Linked DNA regions of Homo sapiens. The protein of the gene in region 1 purifies or fractionates together with the protein of each later gene. This does not show direct contact. Each region holds a gene or a part of one and is shown on either strand. Other genes may lie near its edges. The genes, in order: DHCR24, ERAP1, LUZP1 and ACTA2.

The links.
Region 2: the proteins of DHCR24 (region 1) and ERAP1 purify together in Homo sapiens (affinity purification with mass spectrometry; 4 studies listed by BioGRID and IntAct, with this or other methods). This does not show direct contact.
Region 3: the proteins of DHCR24 (region 1) and LUZP1 purify together in Homo sapiens (affinity purification with mass spectrometry; 3 studies listed by BioGRID and IntAct, with this or other methods). This does not show direct contact.
Region 4: the proteins of DHCR24 (region 1) and ACTA2 purify together in Homo sapiens (affinity purification with mass spectrometry; 3 studies listed by BioGRID and IntAct, with this or other methods). This does not show direct contact.

The regions. Positions count from the first base shown.
Region 1 is NC_000001.11:54,870,196-54,877,195, reverse strand, and holds part of DHCR24 (delta(24)-sterol reductase precursor), read left to right. Parts: intron 1-1,148; coding exon 1,149-1,254; intron 1,255-1,984; coding exon 1,985-2,103; intron 2,104-5,582; coding exon 5,583-5,846; intron 5,847-7,000. UniProt on the Homo sapiens protein: Catalyzes the reduction of the delta-24 double bond of sterol intermediates during cholesterol biosynthesis.
Region 2 is NC_000005.10:96,804,840-96,812,926, forward strand, and holds the start of ERAP1 (endoplasmic reticulum aminopeptidase 1 isoform b precursor), read right to left. Parts: upstream 3,107-8,087; 5' UTR 3,021-3,106; exon of another isoform or gene 2,619-3,020; intron 1-2,618. UniProt on the Homo sapiens protein: Aminopeptidase that plays a central role in peptide trimming, a step required for the generation of most HLA class I-binding peptides.
Region 3 is NC_000001.11:23,088,705-23,095,877, reverse strand, and holds part of LUZP1 (leucine zipper protein 1), read left to right. Parts: intron 1-1,497; 5' UTR 1,498-1,616; coding exon 1,617-4,688; intron 4,689-6,824; coding exon 6,825-6,983; 3' UTR 6,984-7,173.
Region 4 is NC_000010.11:88,942,707-88,949,879, reverse strand, and holds part of ACTA2 (actin, aortic smooth muscle), read left to right. Parts: intron 1-926; 5' UTR 927-949; coding exon 950-1,078; intron 1,079-2,493; coding exon 2,494-2,622; intron 2,623-5,972; coding exon 5,973-6,083; intron 6,084-7,173. UniProt on the Homo sapiens protein: Actins are highly conserved proteins that are involved in various types of cell motility and are ubiquitously expressed in all eukaryotic cells.

The DNA.
Region 1 (7,000 bases):
TTGGGGCCCCCAAATTACTAAACTAAGGGAAAAGTCAAGCTGGGAACTGCTCAGGACAAACCTGCTTCCGCATTCTATTCAAAGTCATCCCTCTGCTCACTGAGATAGATGCATATTCTGATTAGCTCCTTTGGAAAGGCTTATCAGAAACTGAAAAGAATGCAGCCATTTGTCTCTTATCTACCTGTGACCGCAAGCCCTCTCCCTGCTTCAAGTTGTCCCCGCCTTCCTGGACAGAACCACTATACTTCTTACATATATTGATTGATGTGTTCTGTCTCCCTAAAATGTGTAAGATCAAGCTGTGCACCAGCCTCCTTGGGCACATGTTGTCAGGACGTACTGAGGCTGTATCAGAGGCGCACATCCTCAATCTTGGCAAAATAAACTTTCTGGATTAACTGAGACCTGTCTCTGATATTTGCGGTTCACAGTACCAATACAGTATGTGTGGGGAAAAAAAAACCAAAGTAAATACACTGTGTTATTAACATTAGTAATTCTGAAGAACTAGGAAGGGTGAATTTTTTTTTTGTTTGTTTGAGACGGAGTCTCACTCTGTTGCCTAGGCTGGAGTGCAGTGGCACGATCTCGGCTCACTGCAACCTCCACCTCCCAGGTTCAAGTGATTCTCCTGCCTCAGCCTCCCAAGCAGCTGGGACTACAGGTGCCCGCCACCACGCCTGGCTAATTTTTGTATTTTTAGTAGAAACAGGGTTTCACCAAGTTGGCCAGGCTGGTCTCAAACTCCTGAACTCAGATGATTCACCTGCCTTGGCCTCCCAAAGTGCTGGGATTACAGACATGAGTCACCACGACCAGCCAGGATGGGTGATTTTTGTTTTCTTCTTCACTTTTGCTGTATCTTCTAAGTGAATGAGTATTTCTCCTGTAATTTAGAAAAGGTTAAGTCAAATATTTAGTATAAAGATACTTGAAGGGCGAGGTTGAACACTAGCTAACCGAGAGCCAGAAATCACATTCCCTGTAATTAAAGGCAATGTTCTAGAAAGAGCCTGTAAAGGCTATATAGGAATCCCTGCAGTGAGTGTTTGGGAAGGTTTGAGATGACACCTTCTGTGTGCAGCAGCTCCCCTTGGGCCTGGCAGCCTCCTTTTGACCCAGGGTCTCTTTTCTTGTGTCAACAGATTGTCCGTGTGGAGCCCTTGGTGACCATGGGCCAGGTGACTGCCCTGCTGACCTCCATTGGCTGGACTCTCCCCGTGTTGCCTGAGCTTGATGACCTCACAGTGGGTGAGGACCCTATATTAACGGGCAAGAAGAGACACACGGTCCTAGGACCGGAGCTGATGGGCCTTGGCCACCCTCCATCTAGTCCTGGAATTGCCGCTATTCCATCTGTGACAGAAGTCATTCAGTCTCTTACTTGCCTGCTCCAATGACAGGGTGTTCACTGCCTGCTGTTCCATTTCTGAGCAGCTCAAGTTATCAGAAGGCACTTTTAATTTCTGGTTTGAATCTGCTTCCCTGTGACTTGTTCCCATTGCTCCAATTCCCCCCCATGGAACACACAGAATAAGTATAGTCTCTCTTCTCCTCCCATAGGATTCATAGCCCCCAAAGCCTCTTCTTCTTCAGGGAAAACACCTTCAGTTCTTTTAACTATTCCCATGGGACAGGGCTTCCTGTCACCCCTTCAACCCCCCTTTTCATTAAAGTCCCTCTCAAGATGAATGCACACAGATTTCTAGGTTGAGTCTGGCCAGAGGTGAGGTGTGAGTACACTTGACAAGGTCTGCTCGCCACTCCCTTCCTCTAAGGACACCCTCATGCTCCCATCTGAGCCCCTCCTTCCCTCTCCTGCTCTCTAGATTGACAGGTGGGAAATCTCCCCTAAGTCAACAGCCCCATTTCTGCTAGCCTGCCAAACCTCCCTCATGCTAGGAGGCCCCCCAGCTCCAACCCACCCCCAACCCTGTACCCACAGCTCTCCCTGCTGACACTGTGTGTGATGTCTCTGCAGGGGGCTTGATCATGGGCACAGGCATCGAGTCATCATCCCACAAGTACGGCCTGTTCCAACACATCTGCACTGCTTACGAGCTGGTCCTGGCTGATGGCAGCTTTGTGCGATGCACTCCGGTGAGTTCAGCAATGGGAGATGTCCATGCCAGCCTGCTCTGGGCATTAAGGATCCTGAGGTCAGGGAGGTGGCTCCTCTAGGTGTGCTTCATTCCCAGTACCTGTTCAGTCTGGGTCTATATCTGTAAACAAAAATTTGTGTAGCCCCTTATATGAGCTTAGGCAATGTTGTAAATCCATTATATATATTAAGGCATGCATGTTATCCTTCAACAACCTAATGAGGGAGGTTTATTATCCCTATTTTATAGATTATTATTAAATAATAGAAGGATTATTATCCCTATTTTATAGATAGGAAACTAAAGCTCAGAGAGATTATTTGCCATAGGTCACACAGCTGGGACTCACACCCCAGTAATCAGGCTCCCAGGTCCCTTAGCCGTTCATTATGCCATCCTGCCTCTCTGGAGAGGAAGTCAGGCCTTGGCATCAAAGCTGTGTGTCTTAACACTGTGAGGTACAGTCATGTGTCACAGAACAGTAGGGATATGTTATAAGAAACAAGTTGTAGGCAATTTTGTCATTGTGCAAACATCATAAGAGTGTAATTACATAAACCTAGATGAGATAGCCTACTTCACACGTAGGCTATTTGGATAGCCTACTACTCCTTGACTACAGACCTATACAGCATGGTACTGTGCTCAATACTGTAGGCAGCTGTAACACAATGGTATTTATGTATCTAAACATACCTATACTTGGAAAAGGTACAGTAAAAATACAGTATAAAAGATGAATGGTACACCTATGTAGCGTACTTACCATGCATGGAGCTTGCAGGACTGGAAGTTGCTCTGGGTGAGTCAGTGAGTGAGTGGTGAGTGAATGTGAAGTCCTGGGACATTACTGTACACCACTGTAGACTTTATAAACACTGTACACTTAGGCTACACTAAATTTATTTTTTGAAATTTTCTTTCTTCAATAATAAATACTGTTAGCTTACTATAACATTTTTACTTTATAAACTTTTTAAAAACTTTTGACTCTTGTAATAACACTTAGCTTAAAATGCAAACACATTGTACAGGTGTACAGAAATAGTTTCCTTCTTTATATCCTTATTCTATAAGCTTGTTTCTATTTAAACTTTTTTTTTAACTTGTTAAAGTTTTTTTGTTAAAAACTTAGACACAAGGCTGGGTGCAGTGGCTCACTCCTGTAATACCAGCACTTTGGGAGGCCAAGGCAGGTGGACTGCTTGAGCTTAGCAGTTTGAGACCAGCCTGGGCAACATGGCCTACAACATGGTCTACAAACAATACAAAAATTAGCTGGGCATGGTGATGTGTTCCTGTATTTCCAGCTACTGTGGAGGCTGCAGCAGGAGGATCACTTGAGCCTGGGAGGCAGAGATTGCAGTGAGCCGTGATTACGCCACTGCACTCTAGCCTGGGTGACAGAGCAAGACCCTGTCTCAAAGAAAAAAGGTCAAGACATAAACGCATGTTAGTTTAGGCCTACACAGAGTCAAGATTATCAATAACGCTTCCACTTCCGCATCTTGTCCCACTGGAAAGTCTTCAGGGGCAATAACACACATGGAGCTGTCATCTCTGACAACAATGCCTTCTTCTGGAATACCTCCTGAAGGACCTGCCTGATGCTGTTTACAGTTAACTTTTTTTTAATAAGCAGAAAGAGTACACTCTAAAATAACAATTAAAAGTGTAGTGTAGTGAATACATAAACCAATGACAGAGTCATTTATCATTATCAAGTATTATGTAGTGTACATAATTATATGTGCTATACTTTTATACAACTGGCAGTACAGTAGGTTTGCTTACACCAGTGTTACCATAAACACATGAGTATGACATTAGGATAGCTGTGATAGCAGTGATACCACTAGGCAACAGGACTTTTTCAGCTCCATTATAATCTTATGAGACCACCATTTTATCTGTGGCCCATTGTTGACTGCAACGTCTTTATGTAGCACGTAATCGTGTAAGTAAAAGTGATTAGAGAGGATGTTTTAGAAAAATAAGAAACACTTCTACCACCCAAACTGGGATTCAAACATTTAAAGCGTTTTACCTAAGGGGTGGGATAGGAGTGACACTTTAAATAACCTTGGATCTGTCCTGGCAGGTGTGAGGGACCCCTGGGATGGGAGGGACAGTTGGTCCTGTTGAAGTGGGTATTTCAGGGAGCCACCCGACTCCTTCACTTCACAGAAGAGGGCCCAAGGAAAGACTCCCAGCTTGGCAGCACTGGTCTTGGATGAGAGATACCCCTAGCAAGATTCACATCAATTCATCCTGCTTTCCTGAACGCTTGCGGGGCCCTGTCTTTTGACCTATTTATTATCGGCAGAGAAAGGAGACTGACATTTGTGAATTCTTTCCCTTCTCTGAGGCCCAGGTTCCTCACTGACAAATATGTGGTTGAGAGGAATAAGTAGGTCCTGTATGGGAAGCTCCTTGCATAGAGCTCAGCATGCAGCAAGTGTGTCATCTTCACTGCCATGGCCAGGAGAATGTGATTAGCTGTGGGCCCAAGGGGGAATTGGTGAGCGTAGTGCTGCTGTTCCTGAGGTTTCTGCCAGCCTGCTGCAGAGCCTCCTTGCTCCAGCTCTCCTGCCCTGCTGCATTCACTGTGCCCACCACCAAGAGCATTCAGGTTTTGTGGAGACTGCACAGGGCTGTCCTCTTAGTAAAGGCAAGACATGGCTGGACTTTTTCAAAAGAGCTTTCTTTACTAGAACTGAAGAATCCCAATCAGAATGGCCAAGGAAAAGTCAGTTGTCTGTGTCCAAGACAAATGTCAAAACAATAAAATGATGAGGTTGGACATTGATTTATGGAAGCAGATGAGGTGTTGTAGGAAAAACGCTGGCCGGGGAGTTAGGTGGTCTTGCCTGAGCCCTGGCATTGCTGCAGCTGACTTTTCTGGGAAGACTTTGGTGAGTCATGGCAGCTCTGAGAGACTCAGTTTCTTTACTTGTCATAAGGGGGTGCTAGCGCTCTCCCTGGGCTCTGTCGGGGGTGGATCCCACAAGCCGATGGACTGGGAAAGGCCTTGTAAATTTTAGTAATGGTTCAGAAGGGAGGCATTTTAATGTTCCCCAGCTACACTGCCTGACACCCACTAAAGGGTGTCAAGGCCTGGCCTTGGACTCCTGCCCTTGTGCAATGCCCCTGCCATTGTGGGTCGTTGGGCAGCAGTGCCAGTCCCAGCTTTTTCCTGAATAGCCTCTGGGTCAGGGGCTGTACCTAGATGGGAGAAGGAGGATGCTCTCTCAGTGAGGGTCCCTGAGACAGAGGGCAGTATTAGGTTCCATGTCATGTCGAAGCTGCAGGGAGGAAACTAAAGCCCAGCAAGCACAGTTTGTAAAGCTCATTGTTTGGGTTTATACAAGAGAGTGAGAGAATAGGGACTCTCCCAGGCTTTGCTCCCCCACTGACTGCATGCCACAATGTGGGGCCCAAGGTTTCAGCTCACAACACATCAATTCTGTCTCACAGTCCGAAAACTCAGACCTGTTCTATGCCGTACCCTGGTCCTGTGGGACGCTGGGTTTCCTGGTGGCCGCTGAGATCCGCATCATCCCTGCCAAGAAGTACGTCAAGCTGCGTTTCGAGCCAGTGCGGGGCCTGGAGGCTATCTGTGCCAAGTTCACCCACGAGTCCCAGCGGCAGGAGAACCACTTCGTGGAAGGGCTGCTCTACTCCCTGGATGAGGCTGTCATTATGACAGGGGTCATGACAGATGAGGCAGAGCCCAGCAAGGTAAGCCAGGGTGTCAGCTGCTGCTGACCAAGACTGGGGAGGCATGAGTGTGCTAGGACTGAGCCGGTTCCCGTATCCTGACCCTGGCAGCCACCTCTTCAAGGCTGCTGCCTGGGTCAACCCACCTGGGGTACAGGCAACAGGATCTATCATCAGAAATGTATTAGACAGTGATGGAAGCTTTCATCTACTCTGCCCCTACCACCTGCCTGGGATGTGCTTGTCTCTTAGTGGATGTAATCTTTGGTCCTTATAGCAAACCCATTTTATAGATGAGGAAACTGAGTCTTCAAGAGGTAATGTAGGCTGGGCACAGTGGCTCACACCTGTAATCCCAACACTTAAAAGAGGTAATGTAAACTTCCACAAGATTCGAGTAATCGATTTGATGCCTTGGAATCTAGATTGACATTCCTTCCACATATACCATGCAATTTTTATTAGCAGTTTTTTCTCCATTTAGAAAGGATTTGTGCTTATTGTAAGAGACTTGGAAAGGATTTGTGCTTATTGTAAGAGACTTGGAAGGTACAAACAAGTAAAAAGGAAAGAAAAGACTCCACCTGTAAATATGTCCCAAAGCCAGTGTTGCTAATGTGTTTGGTACACAGTTGGCCCCTTGTATCTGTGGGTTCCACAACAGTGGATTCAACCAACTGCAGATTGAAAGCGTTCAGGGGCCAAAAAACGGATGGTTTCATCTGAAATGAACATGGACAGACTTTTTTTCTTGTCATTATTCCTTAACTGTTACATAGCATTTACATTGTATTAAGTATTGTGAGAAATCTAGAGATGATTTAAAGTATACAGGAGGATGTGCATAGGGTTATATGCAAATACTAAATCATTTTATGTAAGGGACTTGAGCATTCATGGATTTTGGGGGATCCTGGAACAAATCCCCCATGGATACTGAGAGACAACTGTATTTATTTCCTCTTTCTCTGTATGGATTTTTTTGAAAGTTTTTAAATTATAAAAGTAATGTAACAATGCTGAAATATATAAAGAAAAAGTTAAAGTGCATCTCTTTACGCCAGGGTGTAACCACTTACGTATAACAGTTTTGTGTGCATTCTTCGAGACCTATTTATTTTTATTTATTTATTTTCTTATTGTTTTTTTTTTTGAGACAGGGTCTCTGTAGCCCA
Region 2 (8,087 bases), on another chromosome or scaffold:
GGAGGCTGAGGCAGGAGAATCGCTTGAACCTGGGAGGCAGAGTTGCAGTGAGCTGAGATTGCACCACTGCACTCCAGCCTGGCAACAGAGCAAGACTCTGTCTTTAAAAAAAAAAAAAAAAGGCAATGTGAATTTTAAGGAAGTTGGCAAACCATGCCCCAAGCATCAAACATAAGTTTTTATTTCTTTTATACAAACGCACCTTTCTAATGGGTGTTTGCCAAGAGGGGCCCATACCAGGTGAATGCAAGTGATTGGCCCAAACTCCTCGTGTTCCAGTTGGGAAAAGTAGCAAGCTTACAATGTGGATCCCTCAAAGTGTTCACAGTACATGGAATTCTCCCTCTCTGAGATGTCAAGTTTCCTAACTCTGGCTGCATATTAATGTAACCTGGGAAGCTTTTAAAATTTTCGATGCCTGGGTCCTTATTGACAACAATTAAACTGGAACCTATGGTGATAAGATCGGGGTATGGTTTTACGGATTGTTTAATTTCTGGTTTTTGGTTTTTTTTTTTAAAAAAAAAAAAAACTGTCCAGAGATTTTACTGAGAAGCCAAGGTTGAAAAGCTCATCCTTGCCAAATCCTGGCTTTCCCCCTTCAACTCTATGTGATAGGATACTAATTCAAGGCAATGGCTGAAGTGCCTTCCCTAACCCCTGACTTCCTTGCTCCCTTCCCAAATGCACAGCTCAAGGGAATTCCCTTCTCCTCACCTCTGGAGCAATCTGGAGGCTAAACAGAAAGGATACCTACACATTAGAGAGAGTCTTGGAAATCTCATAATCCCAGTTCAAAAGGCACCACCCAGGTGAGACAGGAAGTGTGAACAGGGAGAACATTTTTTTGCCCTTGAAGTTGGGGAACTAGAGAGTAAATGGAACTTGTGTTTTGCTTTCCATATGGAATTACTGGCAGCAACAGCTTAATGAGCATCGCCCCTGCCCCAAGACGGGATCCAGAGGACTCTGTGAAGGTGGCAGGTTCAAGCATGTAAGGACTCTGAAAGTCCCCGAGACCTCTCCAACAGCCCCAGAGAAGATCTAGAAATTCCAACTCGTTATGAGCTGACAGAAAGGCTGATGTGCTGCGGAAGGGGTTGGTACCGGGACCTTGGATCAGAGGCTTTGCAGGGTTGGGTCCATGAGGGGTCCAAAGAGAAACAGTTATGTCTCAACGAGGATGCAGTGCATGAGTGGGGCTTGGTAAAAACTCCATGTAGTGAATAAAGGGCTTCACTAATAAATTCTCTTATTAATCCCAAACTGTAGGCTACATCCAAGATTCTGTGATCATGTTCGTGTGTTTGGCTCTTCCCCTGAAAAATTAGCTCTTGTTTGGCTTTGCTTCCAATAGTAAGTGTTCCAGTTTGAAACATGGCATTTCATGGTTCTGGCTGGTCTCCTAGGGTCTGGTTTTACTAACAATTTTCTGAAAGGGAGGCAGTTAAAAAAAAAGAAAGCTCTCAAAAACAGTAGTCTACTCAATATAAGCAGCTCTTCCCAAGAGAAGTACAATTCTCTTTGAAGTTACACTCCACTAACACTTAAAGGAATAGAAGCCAAGGAGGAAAAAGAACTAATATTTACTAAGCTCCTCCAAAGTGCCAGGCACTTTACACATGCTCACTCTCTCTAATAGCCTATTATTCTCATTCAAGGTGGGGTAACTGAAGCAAAGAACCATTCATGTAACTTTGCTAAGTTCACACAACTTGTTGGAATGCAATCCACATCTGTGTGAGTATAAACTCCCTGCTTTTTCAGCTTCACCAAGATCCCTCTTTTTTTTTTTTTTTTTTTTTTTTGAGACGGAGTCTCGCTCTGTCTCCCAGGCTGGAGTGCAGTGGTGCGATCTTGGCTCACTGCAACCTCTGCCTCCCTTCCTTTTATTGGGGCACTATAGTATATGAAATAGATCATCAAGAAGTAATTGAGGTTCTTCCAGAATTTCCTGAACAATGAAATTAACAAGCACTGTTGGTAAATAATAAAAATGCTGGATTAATTTGAAAAAAAAAAAAGTACTAGAATGTTTCTATTCAGGCCGCACCTGAAAATGTGCTACTTATACTAATTAAAAATCCTCAGGCAAGAGACAACTGTGCCCAATTTTCAAGTTTTTTGTTTTGTTTTGTTTTGTTTTGTTGTTTTGTTAATTGTTGACCACGTCCTGAGTTCAGAGCGAATCCTCTGGGTGTTTAATAGGAAACAGATAATTTCTTTCTGAACCTAGCCTACACAAAGAAATCCAAAAGCGTGAGGAAGTGTGTGCTCTCCCCCTTCCCCTCATGGAATTAACTTTGTAGGACCACCTGGCCAGTGAGGCACCCAGATAGGAAACTTTTAATTTGCGTCAACAGAGGTGCTTTATCTGAATAAAACCCAGCCAGAGCCAGAGCGAAGGGGAGAGAGAGAATTGCTGACCAGAAGAACAGGAGAAGCAGGGAGGGAAGTGACCTTAAGAACACACACGGCCCGCGCATCCCACCCCACCAGAGTCTTTAACCCAAAGCCTCTGGGTTTCTCTAGCAGCTATGGGCAGGTGCCCTCCTCAGCCCGAGCCAGCTGCCCGCCCCACCCCGCCTTTTGGCCTCGCGCGGGCGTCGGTGGCCTGCAGGACTGGCAGGCATCCAGGCGCCAGGCGGAGCGCTGAGGGAGGCTCCCGCCGGCCGAACAGCGGGGAGACCCGTGAAGCAGGCGCACCGGCCACGCGCCCGGAGGGACAGGGACAGGGACCGGCAGGGGTGGGCCCGCCGCCAACCCGCCGGGCACCCCGCGGACTCGGGCCTAGCCAGCGACTCCCCCCGCCCTTCCCGCGCCCTGTCTCGCGCCCCGTCGCCTTCCTCCCGCGCCCCGTCGCCTTCCTCCCGCGCCCCGTCTCCCTCCTCCCGTGCCCCGTCTCCCTCCTCCCGTGCCCCAGGCCCTCAGCCCCCCACTTGACGGGCGCAGGGAAGGGGCGGGTGCCGCGCTCTCCTCCCGGCCCGCAGTCCCCTACCCGCGGCTCGAGCGCGCTGTACCTGGGGTTCTGGGGCCGCCCTCACCCTTGCGCCGCCGCCACCACCACTGCCGCCGGCCTAGCTCCCCCAGGACCGAAAGTGAAAGTGGAGCCCGGGGAGCGGCAGGCTGGCGCTGAGCGGCGCTTCGGCCCGAGCCCTAGCGGCAGGCGGGGAAGCCCCTGGCTAAGGCGGGAGCTGGGGAAAGGGTAAACGGGAGTGGGGCCGAGCGAGGGAAGCCGCAACTCCCAGGAAGGGAATTGGTAAATGAGCGCTGCACGCCGGGGAAGCTGCGAGGTTGCGATGCGGGGGATCAGGCGTAGGAAGTGCACGCCTTTCTGAACGCGGATCCGTGTGTGTGTGTGTGTGTGTGTGTGTGTGTGTGTGTGTGTGTGTGTGTGTGTGTGTGTGTGTGTGTGTGTGTGTTGAGATGCTTTTTGTTTTTGTCTTTTTTTTTTTTTCACTGTTTAGCGTTGCGAGGGTTAGGGGCATGCAGGAAAGGGCCGGTGCTCAAGTTGGGGACCGAAGCCAGGCAGGCGCTGACAAGTCCACCAAGCCTAGACGCGTTCGACGCCCATTGGACTCGCTGGGTGTCCGTCATCTCGCCACTGCCAGTGGGCTGAGAGCTCTTGGCCCGCCTCGGAAAGAAACATGAACCCAGTACTCTGTCGTGGCAAAGTGCCGCACCTTCTGGGGCTTCGGTAGAGAATGACTACAGTGGGAGATGCTGTAGAGGAGGAAGGTGGGTTAGAGGTGGCCCCCAGGACTTTCCTGCACTACCAAGGGCCACTGTACCCCAAGGATTAGCTGCTTCCCGCATCAACACGTTCCCTCTGATTTTTCAAAGTAAATGACCATTTCTTCACTCCCCTTAGAACAATTAAAGCTGAATAAAATGGCCAAAAAGACCATCTTTAAACAGTTGAGGCTAAATGAGGTAACAAGTCAAGAAAACACAAACATTAAAACACCAAATGCTACAAGTTTATTACCGAAAATGGGTCCCGATCCAGACCCCAAGAGAGGGTTCTTGGATTTTGCGCAAGAAAGAATTTGAGGGGAGTCCATGGAGTAAAGTGAAAGCAAGTAATTAAGAAACTAAAGGAATAAAAGAATGGCTACTCATAGGCAGAGCACCCCCAAGGGCTGTTGGTTGTCCATTTTTAGGGTTATTTCTTGATTATATGCTAAGCGGGGGAAATTATTCATGCCTCCCCTTTTTAGACCATATAGGGTAGCTTCCCGACGTTGCAGTGGCATTTGTAAACTGTCATGGAGCTGGTGAGACCGTAGCAGTGACGACCAGAGGACACTCTCATTGCCATCCTGGTTTTGGTGGGTTTTGGCCAGCTTCCTTACTGCAACCTGTTTTATCAGCAAGGTCTTTATGACCTGTGTCTTGTGCCTACCTTCTATCTCATTCTGTGACTTAGAATGTCTAACCTCCTGGGAGTGTAGCCCAGTAGGTCTCAGCCTTATTTTACCCAGCTCCTATTCAAGATGGAGTTGCTCTGGTTCAAACGTCTCTGATAATTTGGTGAGTGGACCATGGTCCTAGTGGGAACAGGACCCTTTTCATGCGGTTCTCAGACTTTCTTCTCCCACTTCTTTATTGGCCTTCTTCCCTTTGAGAACTGGGGATTCCAAGTCACTGCAACAGTATTTCTCTTTTTTTTTCAATATTATGTTTCCTTTTTAAAAATATAATGTTTCATACTGCCTATTATCTCTAGTCAAGGACATTTTATAATATAAAGATTAACACCCTGTTCCAAGACTCAACTACGGTGGGATCCAGGGAAGTTTTTTTCACTAAAATTCAACAAGAAATGAGGACTTTGAGATCTGGTAATTTCTGCATGTTCAGAATTTGACAGGAGGTATCAATGGATAGCGTGTAGCCTCCAAGACCTCCAGACATCTCGGAGTGCTCCCAGTTTACTCAAGATGAGACCTCTTTGTCCAGTAAATGTATGCATTTCTTTGCTTTTATATTTATATTTTTGAATATGATGGTTTTCCTTTGGCTTCTAGTAAAGTTTTTTTGTTTTTGTTTTTGTTTTTTGTTTATGTGTCTTTTTAAATACATATTGAAAGTCCAGCTGGCAGAACTGAATGCACCCAACAGGCTGGAGGTTAATACAGAAGACAGCTGAGGAGACAAACAGGGCAATGCCCTGAATGGATGTGGGCAGAAAGGAGCTGAAGTGTAGGCGAGGAGAGAGCTGACACCACCACCCGCTCCACGCCGTTTCCCCAAAAGCTCACCCTGACTCAGACTTTAGCCTGTCGCCCTGGCCGTGATTTCGTCTTTAGAGTTGAAGTGCACTACAAAGAGCGATAAGTCAGAGGATTTGGCAGCATTCACTTCTAGTTTCAAAGCCCTAGCAGGGATGTAGAGGACACAGACCTTGGAGTAAGGACTTTAAGGAGTCCTAGTTCTAGAGCCTGTGAGATCAAAACAGCACATTACCGAGCTTAGAAATGGTTAGAAGGAAGGGAACAGAGAGAAAGGGTACCTAGGTTTATTGATTCCCTACCAACTGTTAGATACTGTTAAATGCTAGCTATGTGTGCATGTGTGTGTTTATAATTTGATCTCTTCAGCAACCCTGTAATGTAGATATTATGCTTTATAGATGAGAAAAATGAGACAGGTCGGCAACTTGCTCAGAGTCAAAGAGAAAACACACACTAATTCTACTCACATTGCATTGGCCAGAACAAGGAGGGGTTGGTAAACACTAATATTGTATACCATATAGTGTAGGAGGGCTGGTTGGCCGGTTGAGCCCATCCATTGCAGAGGCTTCTCAGTGTCCTTAGTCCCAGAGGTGAGCCAGAGGAATGAGGAGAATTTCAGGCCTAGGCCAATGAAATACATACCACTTTGAGCTATTACTGATCTACTTAAAAAATATTGAATTCTAGATATTGTCAAGTGATGTTCAATTTTGCTGTAATTGATTGATTCAGTTCTGCTTTCATTAGCTTTTAGTCAATTAATGTCAGCGTTTGGCTCATTTCTTCTGTTTTGCTGCCAAAGCTGCTCCTATTTTAATCATATTACCACTCTCCTTTTTGATGTAAAATCTCATCCAGAATCATGGTGTAGAAAACAGACAAAAGCAGGCCTGCTCTTATTAAACAGGGCAGCTCCACCCAGTCAGCCTTGCCCACTGCTATCCGGCCCTTCCACACACATTGTGGTCCTTGAGACTCTTCCATAGGCTCCCAGGGCCTTAGAACTTAATTTTTTTAAATGCCAATTTAAAAAAAAATAATAATGCCCCTCATTCTTGATATTCTTGATAAAGAGGATGACTTTTTTCCCCCTCTGTGCCAAGTTGCAGAGCAGGCTTGCTTAACAAAAGCAATACCATCTTATTAATAATCAGAAACAGGGAAGACGGTACAGATGCCATGTTAAAGACTGTTCCAAAACAGGCCACTGAGCTCATATCAAATAATAAAGTCCTCTGAAATGTGGCAGCTTGAAAGCATTTACATATAGTCTATCTCATGGGATCCTCACATTGTACTTATGCAGGTGGCTAGTAGCTCCATTTTTCTAGAATGAGGAAACAGGATTAGAGATGTGAAGTGACCTACCAGGGGCCACCACATGGAAAAAGCCTGCTTTAAAGTGAAGCCAGTTCAAAGGACAGCAGGGCTGACAGAGACAGAGAATACCTCCACTAAAGCCCTCAGCTCCAGCTGTCCTGAGCAAATCCTGTCCTTAGACCTTCCATTCAAGAGGACCAATGCTTTCCTTTTTGATTTAGCCAGTTGGAGTCAGTCTTCAGAGAGAGTCCTGTATTACCATACAACAGAGCACTATGGGAGCGAGCAATGTATGCCAGATTCTGTAGGAACAACTCAAGCAAGTTGAGTGACCACAGCTGCCCTTGAACTTCTAGAATTGTGGATCCTGAAGAACATTCTAGGTGCCACGAGGACTGATCACATGTTTCCCATTTTCCCTCCCTCAGGCATTTATTTCACAAGATACTGCTGTCTAAGGTAACCTGAGCATGTTTCCAGTTCTTGCAGCCTTACAGAACCCAGGGAATCCACCTGTCTCCAACCTTCCTCAGTAGGTGACAGGCCCATCTAACTGCTCTCTAGCCAGTCTTCTGTATTCCTGTTGCTTTTACCTTTGCTCGTGTCAACAAGGAGGTAAGTCACCATGACATATTTCTTAAATTTGTATTTCTTTCATCACTAATGAGACTGAATATATGCACTGAACATATGTTAATTAGCCGTTTTTGCTTTGTGTTTTCTCTTTTGAGAATTATATGTTTATGTTTCTTGTCCATTTATCTACTGGAGAATCACAATTCAGTTATATAAAAATTATCTATGACACACAAGAGAAAGCAATGAAATTTCTTTAAAATGCAAAGTGTCATAGTCAGTAAAGCTCTACTATTTCAAAGAAAACCCACAAATGTGTCTGGATAAATCATGTCAATTTCTTAAAAACCCAGATCTATACCCGTTATGGTGAGTTGTTTGAAATATCAGAATTTACTAGATATTGTCAATATGAACAGATTAAAGCAAACCTTTGTTTAGGAGGCTTTATTTTATTTATGGCTCCCTCTGCCACAGCTATTTCACAAAGAAAGAATGAATTATCCAGCCAGGAGTGAACATGATCTTTGCATATGCCTAAAGGAATGATAAAAATATTGGGATGAAAAATATGTAGATTTGTTTATTGTTATTTTTTGAGGGACCATGGTGTTATGCTACTAACTGTCTTGCCTTAGCTATAATGAATATCTGTTGCAATAACTAAACATGGGAAAAATAACTTTTCAAAACCTTAGTTTCTAGAAGGTTAATGGATTTTATTATATTGAAATTAAATGAGCTATGATACAAAGGAGAAAAGGAAAGAAACGAATAACTTTCTCAATGAAGTTCTGTAAAGTATATACAATTGGGGCCTGAAAAGAGAAACTCATTTATGCTCATCCATACATGGCAGTGTGAAATTGACAGAGTTTGGCTTAAGTGAAGTCTGTGGTTCTAGGAATGCTTGCAATTTATTGGAAAATTAGATTGTGATTATGGAAGAAA
Region 3 (7,173 bases), about 32 Mb from region 1:
GGGATATTACTAGGCTGATGGCCATTTTATGTTAGTTTCTCAGGACAGATAGGTTCTAGACCACTCAGATGGTATAAATTTGAACTCTGAATTCAAGTGAGAGCAGGTCTAAGATTATAAATTCTCTAGGGATAATCCTCCTTTAACCCCTAATAGAGCCCGGGTCCTCTTATCTCCCTATATCAGGGAGGTGACTTTTTTCACTAGTTATCCTGGAGCTGTAGTTCTTCAATAATCCTTGCTTTAGATTGGGGACTGGAGTCTCATTTTCAACTTACCACCTCTATTGAGCCCAAACTCTTGCCTCTTATACCTGCATGATTGTTAGAACCCAAACTCCTTGGTTCTGGAGATCGGCAAGACCCTAAGAAGGACAGCTCAGTGGTAGTTTAAACTTACTATTATTTTTCATTTAGTTTTCTTTTCCTCTGGTTTTAGCTGGAATGTCACTTACTTTCTATGTGATCAACTATACATTTTAAGTGATTGTTACATTTTATTCAGTATTTTTAGCTGTTTTATAGTATTAGAGGTTTTCCAGGTTATCTGGTTTGCTGTAGTGGTGGAAATGGAAGTCTGTTGTTTGCCTTTTAATTTCGTAGGACTTATTGTTCATGAAAGCTGTTTAAAATACATTTATCAATCCATTCTCCTGTTTTAAAAATGAGAAAATTACATAAAAAAACTAAACCTTCCCCTTTCTCTATTTCCTTGGGGTATTATTATATGTTTGGTATATATCCCCAGTGAAATGGCTTTCAAAGAAACAAACCAGTCTTCATACCAACCTTAACATCTGGGGCATTTCTTTTACAGTGCAAAAGGATATGTTTTGTAGAAGCTGCCTGTTGGCTGGGTCGGGCCAACTCACACCTGAATTCCACTTACAAATATACTTTTGGGAGAAGAGATGTTGAAAATGGGTGTAGAGAGATTGTTTTAGTATATTGTGAAGCTCACCATTTATAGCAAGGCAGAGGGTTAATTTGTATCACTTTTAAGTCACAATAGCTCATAAGAGATAATCTTTAAAAAAAAAAATCTTAGGATTGTTTATTGCTTTGTTACCAAGATCTTCCACATATTATCTCAGAACAACACTGGGGAGAAATACGGTAGACATCATTATGCCCATTTTACCACTAAGTAAAACTGAGACTTAGTTTCCATTGTTAATGACTCTCCTGAGATTATGCAGGTTGCAGATGGTAATGATGTTATTATACCCTGCCATGAAAATTGAGGCTTCTTATATGTCTTTTTGCCATGCTGCCACTGGTGACATTCTTTATTAGGGCGAAATGAGGTATCAACTCAATATCGGCCATAAAGAACCAGTGTTTTCTTGCAGGTTTATTCAAGTCATTCATTCAACAGGTTTGAGCCCCTGCTATGATCCAGGCACCAGGAACAGATAGGAGCACTTTTCTATAACTGGGAGCTAACGTGCAGGTTTTACATTTGCTGACTGACATGCTTTCTACTTTCCTTTTGTAGATTGATGATGGTCTCCAGCTGTCAAAGAAGATTGTGGTTGCCAAGAGAAAGGTAACCATTTCTCATCCCCTTGAGTGGAATTGGATGCCTCTAGGAGCCCACATTGGCTGGCAGTAGACATGGCCGAATTTACAAGCTACAAGGAGACGGCCTCCAGCCGCCACTTGCGGTTTAAGCTACAGAGTCTAAGCCGCCGCCTTGATGAGTTGGAGGAAGCCACAAAAAACCTCCAGAAAGCAGAGGATGAACTCCTGGATCTCCAGGACAAGGTGATTCAGGCAGAAGGTAGCAACTCCAGCATGTTGGCGGAGATTGAAGTGCTGCGCCAGCGGGTGCTGAGAATTGAAGGCAAAGACGAGGAAATTAAGAGAGCAGAGGATCTGTGTCGTCTGATGAAGGAGAAACTTGAAGAGGAAGAAAACCTCACCCGGGAGCTGAAATCTGAGATTGAGCGGCTTCAGAAACGAATGGCTGAATTAGAGAAGCTAGAAGAGGCCTTCAGCAGGAGTAAGAATGACTGTACCCAGCTGTGTCTGAGCCTGAATGAGGAGAGAAATCTGACCAAGAAAATCTCCTCTGAGCTGGAAATGCTCAGAGTCAAAGTGAAAGAACTAGAATCTTCTGAGGACCGCCTGGATAAAACTGAGCAGAGTTTAGCGTCAGAGTTAGAAAAGCTGAAATCATTAACTCTGAGCTTTGTAAGTGAGAGAAAATACTTGAATGAAAAGGAGAAAGAAAATGAGAAATTGATAAAAGAACTCACTCAAAAACTAGAGCAGAACAAAAAAATGAACCGAGATTATACAAGGAATGCTTCTAATCTGGAAAGAAATGACCTACGGATTGAGGATGGCATCTCTTCCACACTGCCGTCCAAAGAATCAAGAAGGAAGGGTGGTCTGGACTACCTAAAGCAGGTAGAGAATGAAACAAGAAACAAATCAGAAAATGAAAAGAACCGCAATCAGGAAGACAACAAAGTCAAAGACCTTAACCAAGAGATTGAGAAACTTAAGACACAAATCAAACACTTTGAATCGTTGGAAGAAGAGCTTAAGAAAATGAAGTCCAAAAATAACGACCTTCAGGATAATTACCTAAGTGAACAAAATAAAAACAAATTATTAGCCAGCCAACTGGAGGAGATAAAGCTACAAATCAAGAAACAGAAAGAGTTAGAAAATGGAGAGGTAGAAGGGGAAGATGCTTTCCTGTCCAGCAAAGGCAGACATGAGAGGACTAAGTTTAGAGGCCACGGAAGTGAAGCTTCTGTGTCCAAGCACACAGCGCGGGAACTGTCTCCTCAGCATAAGCGGGAACGACTCCGGAACAGGGAGTTTGCTCTCAACAATGAAAACTATTCTCTGAGCAACAGGCAGGTTTCTTCTCCCAGTTTCACCAACAGGAGGGCAGCAAAAGCTTCTCACATGGGGGTGAGTACAGACAGTGGGACTCAGGAGACAAAGAAAACTGAAGACCGGTTTGTACCCGGCTCCTCCCAGAGCGAAGGGAAGAAGTCTAGGGAGCAGCCCTCAGTGCTGAGTCGCTACCCCCCGGCTGCTCAGGAGCACAGTAAAGCGTGGAAGGGGACTTCCAAGCCAGGCACCGAGAGCGGACTGAAGGGAAAAGTGGAGAAGACAACACGAACGTTTAGTGACACCACCCATGGATCTGTTCCCAGTGACCCATTGGGTAGAGCTGACAAGGCTTCTGACACCTCCTCTGAGACTGTCTTTGGCAAGAGGGGACACGTGCTTGGCAACGGAAGTCAAGTAACTCAGGCTGCAAACTCTGGCTGTTCTAAGGCCATTGGAGCCCTGGCCTCATCTCGAAGATCCTCCTCAGAAGGGCTCTCTAAAGGCAAAAAGGCTGCCAATGGCCTTGAGGCTGATAACAGTTGCCCGAATTCCAAGGCTCCTGTTCTATCGAAGTATCCTTATAGCTGTAGAAGCCAAGAGAACATCCTTCAGGGATTTTCAACCTCACATAAAGAAGGGGTTAATCAACCTGCAGCAGTTGTGATGGAAGACAGCAGTCCGCATGAAGCCTTGAGGTGTCGAGTCATCAAATCCAGTGGCAGAGAGAAGCCAGACTCAGATGATGACTTGGACATAGCATCTCTTGTTACTGCCAAGTTGGTAAATACAACCATCACTCCAGAGCCAGAGCCCAAACCACAGCCTAACTCTAGAGAAAAGGCTAAAACCCGAGGGGCACCTAGAACCTCCCTATTTGAGAATGATAAAGATGCTGGAATGGAGAATGAATCTGTGAAATCTGTCAGAGCCTCCACCAATACCATGGAGCTCCCAGATACCAATGGTGCTGGGGTAAAAAGCCAAAGGCCCTTTAGCCCCAGAGAGGCGTTGCGGTCTAGAGCCATCATCAAACCTGTTATTGTTGATAAGGATGTGAAAAAAATCATGGGAGGATCTGGAACAGAGACTACGTTGGAGAAACAGAAACCCGTCTCCAAACCAGGGCCAAACAAAGTGACAAGTAGCATTACTATATATCCATCTGACAGCAGCAGCCCCAGAGCTGCTCCGGGTGAGGCCCTGAGGGAGAGGCACACATCCACTAGCAATATCCAGGTGGGGCTGGCAGAGCTCACATCAGTTAGCAACCATGTCAGCTCCCCTTTTGAGCTCTCCATTCACAAACATGACATCACCCTGCAGCTTGCAGAAGCGGAGAGAATGGCAGATGGGCCCCTGAAGGACAGGCCAGAAACAGTGGTCTCTCGGAGCAGCATTATAATCAAGCCATCGGATCCTGTGGAGAGGAATAGCCATGCACCTCCAGCGGAGACAATCAGGTGGAAAAGCCATAGTGCCCCTTCAGAAGTGGGCTTCTCAGATGCCAGACATGTTACTGTGCGGAATGCCTGGAAGAGTAGGCGAGACTTGAAATCTTTAGAAGACCCCCCAACTCGAATAGGTAAAAACGTGGAATCTACCAATAGCAATGCCTACACCCAGAGGTCTTCCACAGACTTCTCAGAACTCGAACAGCCCAGGTCCTGCCTTTTTGAGCAGGGCACTCGAAGGGTAGGACCAAGTTCAGGGGATGCCCCTGAGCCCTCCTCCAGAAGGACCCAAAGTAGCCTCACTGTGTCAGAGGTGCTTACCCGTCGGAATCGGGTAGGAGACACCATCACTGTCGCAGCCTGGAACCACTCAGCAAGCATGGTGAGTTCCAGCCTCTCTCCCCTCTCTCTTTTCTCCCTCCCTTTTCCTTCTTTGCCTTTTCCTTTTTCCCCTCTGCTCTGGCCTGTGTGACCCAGGATCTTGAGAACTGAGTAGAACTGGGTTCCTTAGAGAACTGTTGAAAAATCAGGGGGGTTTGACCTTTCTCCTAAAGAAGGTTTTTGGCAGCATCACTTTCCAAAATCCCTTTTCCAATTTGTTGTCTTCATTTTGCTCTCGTATATGAAGGTGACATAAAAAGGAAATCTGTCTTCTCTTCCCTTGGTTTGCCAGAGCAGCTAAAGGAGCTCCCCGTAGGCCCTCAGAACAGCATGAAAAGCACAAGAAGCAGCTGCAGCTGATGGGGAGCTCTGGGCAACAGGAGGAGGCCCGGTGCCCTTTCTGTAGGGCACAGTGAGGGGGAGCCAGGTCAGCAAGTTCTCGGCCGCCTCAGTTAGCAGATCTTCACAGGCTGCTGGCCTCTCAGGGATGAGGAGAGCCGGGGCTTACACTGGGCCTATTTTAGATAAGCGTATACCCAATTCCAAGTGACACTTTCTTTTGCCCCCCAGACAGCTGTCTGTCTCATATTATCAGTCTGAGGGCAGGGCTGGTTCAGTATAGCTCATTACAGCTTTGATAAATCCAGAACCACCTGCCTTATGTGAGTGTGAGGCTCAGGGTGTCAGAACAGCATCTGGAGAAGCCCCTGGGAGTGTCTTTTTGATGAGAAACCTGTGATGATGAAAAACTTCTTGGACCTGGACACAGTGCTCCCTTCTTTAAAAAAGCAGATGACTCTGTTAACTTGAAAAGCCCTGTGACTCTTTACAGGGTACTTAACACTGGACAAAAGTACTTCACTACCCACTATCTTATTCAGTCCCTTGAATATCTGCCTGGGGGCAGATATTATCCCCATTTTTCAGATGTAGAAGCTAAGGGTCAGAAACACAAAATATCTTACCTAAGGTCACCCAGCAGAATTACTGGAAGAGCGAAGACTTGAATCCAAGATTCCTGTCTCTAAATCCAATGCTCTTTCTACTCTAACCTTTCTTACTCATGCCTATGTTATTCTTTGATCTGCATTTGCTTGGGAGAACCAAGGAGAATATTAAAAAGGTAGAATTCTGGCCAGGCGTGGTGGCTCACACCTGTAATCCCAGCACTTTGGGAGGCCAAGGCAGGCGGATCACAAGGTCAGGAGTTCAAGACCAGCCTGGACAATATAGTGAAACCCCGTCTCTACTAAAAATACAAAATTAGCTGGGTGTGGTGGCACATGCCTGTAATCGCAGCTACTCAGGAGGCTGAGGCAGGAGAATCACTTGAACCCAGGAGGCGGAGGTTGCAGTGAGCCGAGATCGCACCATTGTACTCCAGCCTGGGCAACAAGAGTGAAATGACGTCTCAAAAAAAGAAAAAAAAAAAAAGCCAGGTGTGGTGGTGCGTGCTTGTAATCCCAGCTACTTGGGAGGCTGAGGCAGGAGAATCGCTTGAACCCAGGAGACGGAGGTTGCAGTGAGCTGAGACTGCGCCACTGCACTCCAGCCCGGGAGACAGTGCGAGACTTCGTCTCAAAAAAAAAGGTAGAATTCTAGGCGTAGGGAGAAAGACAGCTATTTGGGCCCCTGAAGCTTTGGACATTTAAGAGGAGAGATAAAGGATGAGAGACGGGAATGTGAGCTTTTTGGTAGTTTGTATGTGGGAAGGAGGAAGAGAGCTGTCCGGACCTCTCTTCAGCTCCCCATCAAGGATGTGGACCTCATCCCCAGAATCATGCGGCCTGCATGCATGTGCAGAACTCGGAGACTGCTGGCCCCTCCTCAGGGGTGCTAGTCCCATGCCCCCATTCCAGGCTCTATCCTCTGTAAGGCTCCTGTTGAGTTGTGAGCCTCCTCCTAGCCTACCCTGATTGTTCCCAGCAGCTTGGAGTTCCCAGTCTGCCGATTTCCAAGGAATTTACATATTGGCCCATACTCAGGCAAAAGCATATCTTTGCAGTTAACTTATGGCCTGTCTGGGCTATATCTGCCTCTGCTGGGTTGGAAAGGACCCACTATGGTAGCAGGTGAGGGTGTCTCGGTCCTCACTTTACTGACCTCCACAGCTCACTTTTGTTATTTATTGGCACAGGAGGAAGAAGGGGAAGACTGTACACTCAGTGTCTACAGGCAACTGCACAACTCCCTGGATCCGTCTGAACTGCCTGGGAAGCAGGGGCTGCCAGAGTCTGGGCGAGTACGGGCCGAGGAACGATTACGGCCAACCAGGCCCTGTGCTGAGGAGAACTGAGCCCGCTGGGTGTCTGTTGTCTGCCCTCTGCTCCTGCTTCTCAGCTCTTCCACCGTCCTGCCCCACGAAGGATCCAAGGCCAGTTAACCAGGCAAGACACAAGCCTTGGCTGGAAAACTGTGGTAGAGCCGGGCTGTGGCTCAGGTAATTTTTGCCATTTGGCCAGAGGGAATCAGAGACTACAAGCTGG
Region 4 (7,173 bases), on another chromosome or scaffold:
ATGGGAAAATAATTAAAAACACCTATAAAACCCACCACTTCATAATAACCTCAGTCAACATCTTGGTAAATATGATTAATCTTTTTGCAATGCATAAAAAATACATTTTTAATGAGATTTACAATGTTACTTTTTCTAACCTATTACTCTTACATAAGAACTACCTTTTGCTTATCCTCTTACTCTACCTTTTTAATGGCAGTAAAGTATTCTACCATATGATATATAATCCATCAGGCTCACCCTCACTTGTTGGACTGTTAGCTTAACAGTGACTTTTATTAACGGTGGATAATTGCAGCCCCTAAAATTTAAAGCACCTTCTCAGAAAATTTTATTTCAAAGCTTCTCTGAGGGTAAAGTAAAAGTCCTCATGATTCAAAAAGATTTTTCCATTAAACACTTGACCATTTTAACATTTCTAAATTTTTACATGCTGCCTGTCCCTCAAAAATCTAGCTTTTTGAAAAAATTTCAAAAAGGTATAGCATATCTAGAAAAATGTGCATTTGGGTTGATACAGACAGGAAAATCTAGATGCTTCTTTAACATAAGGTAGGCAACTTGTCTCTGCAAAGATCTGGTCTCAGACTCTGGATTTCCCATCTGTGCTCTGCAGTTTGTTTATTCATTCACTGGCTCTATCCACCTTTAAAGTGCTCACGAGAACACATGATATGCCGGTCACTACACTAAGGTTGTATCAACATAGAAGTCAGAGTTTCAGAAGTCAGAGTTTCAGCTTACTGAAAGCTTATAGTGTAACTAAAGTACTTCCAGATACATGCTATATTAGATAAGGGTCAGAGGATAGCACTAGGACACAGAGGAGGGCCCCCAAACCCAGCCTTGGAGGTGGGAGTTGTCAGGTAAGTGCCACAAATGCCCAATTACAGCTGAGGCTGCTTCCTCCCTGTTTTCTATAGAATCCTGTGAAGCAGCTCCAGCTATGTGTGAAGAAGAGGACAGCACTGCCTTGGTGTGTGACAATGGCTCTGGGCTCTGTAAGGCCGGCTTTGCTGGGGACGATGCTCCCAGGGCTGTTTTCCCATCCATTGTGGGACGTCCCAGACATCAGGTGAGGAAAATTATGATTGGAACATAACAGGACACAGATTAGGTTCCTCTGTGTTCATGTTTATCCCCAGATTGTCTATCTCTTTCTGCCCAGAAGTTATGTAACCTTGTTACAAATAGACCTCTAATGATTAAGGTCCAGGAGTAAATGCCAATTTCACATATAATGTAGACAGATTATCTGATGGGCATCTATCAGATACAAAGTCTGCCCCTTTTTCATGTCCTTTTTGTCTAAATATAGTCATTATCATCATCATCATCATCATCAAATCATTTCATCACCATCAGAAATGCTTATACATTATCCTGATGTATACCAAAGCTACTGTTTGGAAAGAAACTAAAATAAAAGTCCAGGTCACTTAACCATACAGGGCTGATGTTAGATGAAAGCAAGCATCGATACCAAATGCAATTTTACATAATATTACCTGTCAACAAAATATATTTGGACAGCCGCATGGTAATTTTACACATTATGTGTAAACAAAGTATTGGTGGCATCACATGGTAAAAACTCAGTAATTTCACCTCAGAAATTCTTCTTCACATCAGAAATGTAGTTTGTGCATTGAGGCTATCTGATTGATGTTTATGCCTCTCTGCTTGGGATATATTCATGAGAATAAATAATAGAAACCTCTCCCAATGAATGCAGTCTGTCTGAATTCATTGATCTTTATGCAGTGGAGATATTCTGCACAAGCCGCTATTTTATGGGTCCATAGTAGCCATGGCTGTTTTGTAGTTCTAAAATAGTCACTGCAGTGCAATTTAAAATCTAGTAACAATAATTTTTTAAGAACTTCACCTTAATGATTTTTTTTAAATGCAGCTGACTAATTTAGGCAAATGTCTTAACAGTTGATTGGTATGAACTTATCCATTAGAAATCAAGCCTCAAGTGGTTATTTGTAGATGCAATGCTTTTGCTTATAATAGTTAGAAAATAATGCTCATATTCTTTTGGGTAGGTGATGACTTTAAAAGTACAGTTTAAAGGATTTATAAGACACAAAATGCCATTTAACAAATATGTAAAATTGTATACATTCTTTCAACAAATAATTATTGAGTGCCACATATGTGCCATGCAATTTGCTATAGTGATGGACAAGACAGACATGATCTCTGCCCTAAAAAAGCTCATCAAGGAACATAGGAGATAAAAATACAAAGTAAAGTTGACTTTCCCCCAACATCTCCTGTTATTTGGAGGCAATTCAGGTCTTTTTCCAATCAACTGCAGAATTTTGCTTAAGAGCATAGTGGCAATGAGACTCAATATGTTTATTGTTGCTGATAATCAGAAGAGGAACTTCCCATCTCAATGACTTAACCTTTTGTGGCTTGGCTGTAATTGATTCACAAGTTTTGGGAGATGCTGACTCATAATGTGTTGAACCTTTTTAGGGGGTGATGGTGGGAATGGGACAAAAAGACAGCTACGTGGGTGACGAAGCACAGAGCAAAAGAGGAATCCTGACCCTGAAGTACCCGATAGAACATGGCATCATCACCAACTGGGACGACATGGAAAAGGTATGGGAGGTTTGCTGCAGCTTGGGCCCTCAGGATGCATAATCCCTGTGTTCTCTGATACAGAACACCACACTACTGCTGGGGAAATAACTGGCTCACATTGCTCAACTGTACTTTTACTTGTTAATGTTCATTCTGGGTTATTACCCATTGAAAAAAAAATCCTTGTAGCCATAAAAAATGATGAGTTCATGTCCTTTGTAGGGACATGGATGAAGCTGGAAACCATCATCCTCAGCAAACTGTCGCAAGGACAAAAAACCAAACACCGCATGTTCTCACTCATAGGTGGGAATTGAACAACGAGAACACATGGACACAGGAAGGGGAACATCACACACCGGGGACTGTTGTGGGGTGGGGGGAGGGGGAGGAATAGCATTAGGAGATATACCTAATGTAAATGACGAGTTAATGGGTGCAGCACACCAACATGGCACATGTATACATATGTAACAAACCTGCACGTTGTGCACATGTACCCTAAAACTTAAAGTATAATAATAATAAAATTTAAAAAAAAAAGAAAAAAAAATCCTAAAATGTTTCTTTAAAAAAAAATCCCTTGCCAGGCATGGTTGCTCACACGTGTAATCCCAACACTTTGGGAGGCCAAGGTGGGAGGATCGCTTGGCCCAGGAGTTTGAGACCAGGCTGGGTAACATAGTAAGATCCTGTCTCTACAAAAAATAAATGAAATTAGCCAGGCATGGTGGCACACACCTCAGTCCCAGCTACTTGAAAGATTGAGGTGGGAGGATCACTTGAGCCTGGGATATGGAGGCTGCAGTGGGCCAAGATCCTACTCCAGCCTAGGTGACAGAGTGAGATCCTATCTCAAAAAAAAGAAGAAAAAAATCCTGCAGGGCACAGTGACTCACACCTGTAATCTCAGCACTGGATCACTTGAGGCCAGGAGTTTGAGACCAGCCTGAGCAACATAGCAAAACCCTGTTTCTACTGAAAAAAAAAAAAAAAAAAAGGTTTAATTAACAGTGTGTGGTGGCATGCAACTGTAGTCCCAGCTACTCAGGAGGCTGAGGTGGTAGCATCATTCGAGCCCAGGAGTTCGAAGCTGCAGTGAGCTGATCATACCATCAGCTGTTGCACTCCAGCCTGGGCAACAGAGCAAGACTCTGTCTCTAAAGAAAAGGAAAAAAATGTCCTTGCCTATTAGGTTTTATTAACTAATTAAAGGATGATAGTTCTGTAGATGAGAAGAGTAGCCCTTTGCCACTGCAGGGAATTAATCATCTGTTGCTCACGTCAACTCTGTTGCCCTCCTAGGACAAGCAGTGCATGAGCAGCAGCTCAGAGAATGAAAACCCTCCTTTCATTTTCATCAGGGGCTGCATGGTTATCCCTCTCAGTGCAATATAGCTAAAGGGGCTTGAAATGCTGGGAGTAGTCTTAAACAGCCCATTCTTGAAAGGTTTTCATTAACTCACTCTAAACATCTAAATTAAAAATGTTTTTGTTTTCACTATAGTAAACAGGAGTGTAACATTGCAGGTTTGGTACATTTCTGAATGCCTCTCCACACACTGAAGCACAAGAGCCACTGAAAAAAGCTATATGATAAATATTTTAAAAATTATTTATCTGTGTTGCATTACATGAGGCCTTATCTCCCAGACACTTAATAAAAGAGCTAATGAGAAGAAGAGCTAAATTCTAAGATTTTGATGTTTGGTCATTAAACATTACAGACACCAGTGATCAGAGAAAAAAACAGAAGAAATAATGAGAAAGTGACATAAAAAATTTTAAATGCAGCAAGATATATCAGAATCACGATATCTGGCCTTTTATTTATCTATCGGCTCACTACTACTACTACGCACACAATTTATCACTTAAAAGAAAAATACATAATGTTGTTAGAATTTATCAGCAGTAATGCTCCAAGCTCTATCTTTCTACAAAAATTTCATATCAGTAGGTTTGCTTGAGGATTCTAGATTTGGTAAGATTGCAGTTTGCACAGAGAAAAAGATATCAATATCAATAGGAAAATATTCTTTTAGAATTTCTCCATGGAGCTGACAACATCTTAGAATGTATCGTCCTAGACAGAGACTATTGGAAGAAAAAACTTTCCTTATTTCTAAAATTTAAATTCAAAGTATCTTCTGGTGGGGACGAAGAGAGAGAGAGGAGAAAGGTTGCTTGCTGTGACTGGCAGGATTTTTTGAGCAGTCTGCTGCTTTCACTCCACTAAAGAAACAAAACTTTCAGAAGTTTCATTTCCCTTCTATAAACCACAAATCCAAAACAAAAGAAAGTGGAATAAGATAGTCTTTAAAGCTAATCTTGGTTTTGCTAATTTGTAAGCTTTCACCAGCAGTTCTTGTTTTGCTCTGTTTTGATTTTGAGTGAATCTCATATTCCTGGCTCTGGTGGAGAATTTTCGTGCTTTTAAAGATTAATTAATTTAGTCCTTTTTGCAATGGTTTGTTCTTTTCGGCATCTAGGAATTAAAGAAAGTGCTCAACCATAAATAAATGTAGTTATGTCCAAAGTACCTTCACATAGACACACTATACACAGGCGTGGGCCTTTTGGAAACACCTGAAGGCCAAATGTCTGACTGTGAGTGGAAGATCCAGAGTGTGCTGATAGAGGAAGCTTTTCTCATCCCTCGAGAGCAAAGAGGGTGATGGAGGCAAGAGTCAGAGAGCCCTGTTCTCTTCTTCATGTACACTGCAAAGGGCAACTTCTCTAGAAGCATTAAAAGTGTCAATTAGGTTTTCAAGTAAGCGTCATTTATTCATATATACATTCATTTGTCTTTTTATTTACAAAATTAAATCATTTTCCCATGAACATTAAAATGGGAAGAGAGAACAAAGAAAATAGAGTTGAATAATAATAACATTGATTCTGGACCAGACACTGGGCTGGACAATAACTCGAGGGTTACCTTATTTATTTACACAAAGACCCGATGAGGTACACACTAATTATTTTCATCTCCCTATTACCAATCATGAGACTGAAGCTGAGAAGGGTTAAAAACTTGCCTAAGCTCACACAACTAAGAAGTGTCCGAGCTGGGCTTTGAACCCAAGGTTTGATCAAGGGTTGTGCCCTTAACTGCCATACCATCCTGCCTCACAGATCTGGGTTAGGGATTCTGCTCAGTCACTTAGTAGATGTGAATCCTTTGGGAAGGTACTTACACACTTTGAGCTTCAGTCTCTGCATCTATAAAACCATGGACACATGCATGAGTACTTGTAGCATTTCCTTTGGTCTTGGTTTCAAGTAGCTTCTGGTCCCTTTTTGGGAAATGCAGGACCTCATGACAGCACATCATTGTGTTTCTCCTCTGTCCCCCAACTCACTAGATCTGGCACCACTCTTTCTACAATGAGCTTCGTGTTGCCCCTGAAGAGCATCCCACCCTGCTCACGGAGGCACCCCTGAACCCCAAGGCCAACCGGGAGAAAATGACTCAAGTAAGTATGCTACCCCAGCACACAACACTGTGGGGTCTGGGGAAACTTCTGTTAGAAGGAGGCTATGCAGCACAGCAGAGAGAAGGCCGGAGCTAGGAGTCCACCAACAGACTAACAGCCTTCAGTGAACTCAGGGATCCCAAAGGACAGGAACAGCTTGAAAGTACTTGCATCCTTCCTGCAGGGACCAGCCCTTTGCCTCCAAAAGCAATAGGAAATTTAAAAGATTTCACTGAGAAGGGGCCACGTTTAAGTTATAATGTCTAAGGAGAAGTCACTTCAAAATGCAGCATCACATACAATAGGAATTTGGGTTCCAGAGTCAGACATATCTAGGTTTGAAAACTGGATCTGCCACTTATCAGTTATGTGACCTTAAAGAACTCCGTTAATTTCTCAGAGCCTCAGTTTCCTTGTCTATAAGTTGGGAGTAATATTAATACTATCATTTTTCCAAGGATTGATGTGAACATTAATGAGGTGAAATGACAGATGTGTATCATGGTTCCTAATAAACATCCAAAATATAGTACTTACTATTGTCATTATTATTACTTGTTTGAAGCTAAAGACCTCACAATAGAATCCCATCCAGCCCACCAGACAGAGCTCTGAGTTTTCTAGTTTGGAAGAGCTATTAAATAACAACGTCTAGTGTCAATTCTATACTTGTTATGGTCAAGTACTGGGCTCAGCATTTTACATTCATTGTCTCTTTAAGTTCTAGCAATGTGAAGCAGGAACTATGATTATATTGACTACATAAATGAAGAAATTGAGGCTCAGATACATTAAGTAATTCTCCCAGGGTCACACAGCTAGAACTGGCAAAGCCTGGGATTGATCCACGATCTTCCAGCATTGAAGAATCATAAATGTAAATAACTGCAAGGCCTTTTCCTCAGAAGAGCTCCTGGTGCTTGCACCAACCCACTAGCACTTGTTCTCTACAGGGGAACATCTGTGGGCCTGGGAATCACTGCACGTCGCAAGAGATGTTGCTTCTGATGAATTATTGTTCCTGTCAGTGGTGTGAAGGCAAAAAAAAAAAAATGGTTGGAAATTATGGCTTGCTAGCAAATGATGTCAG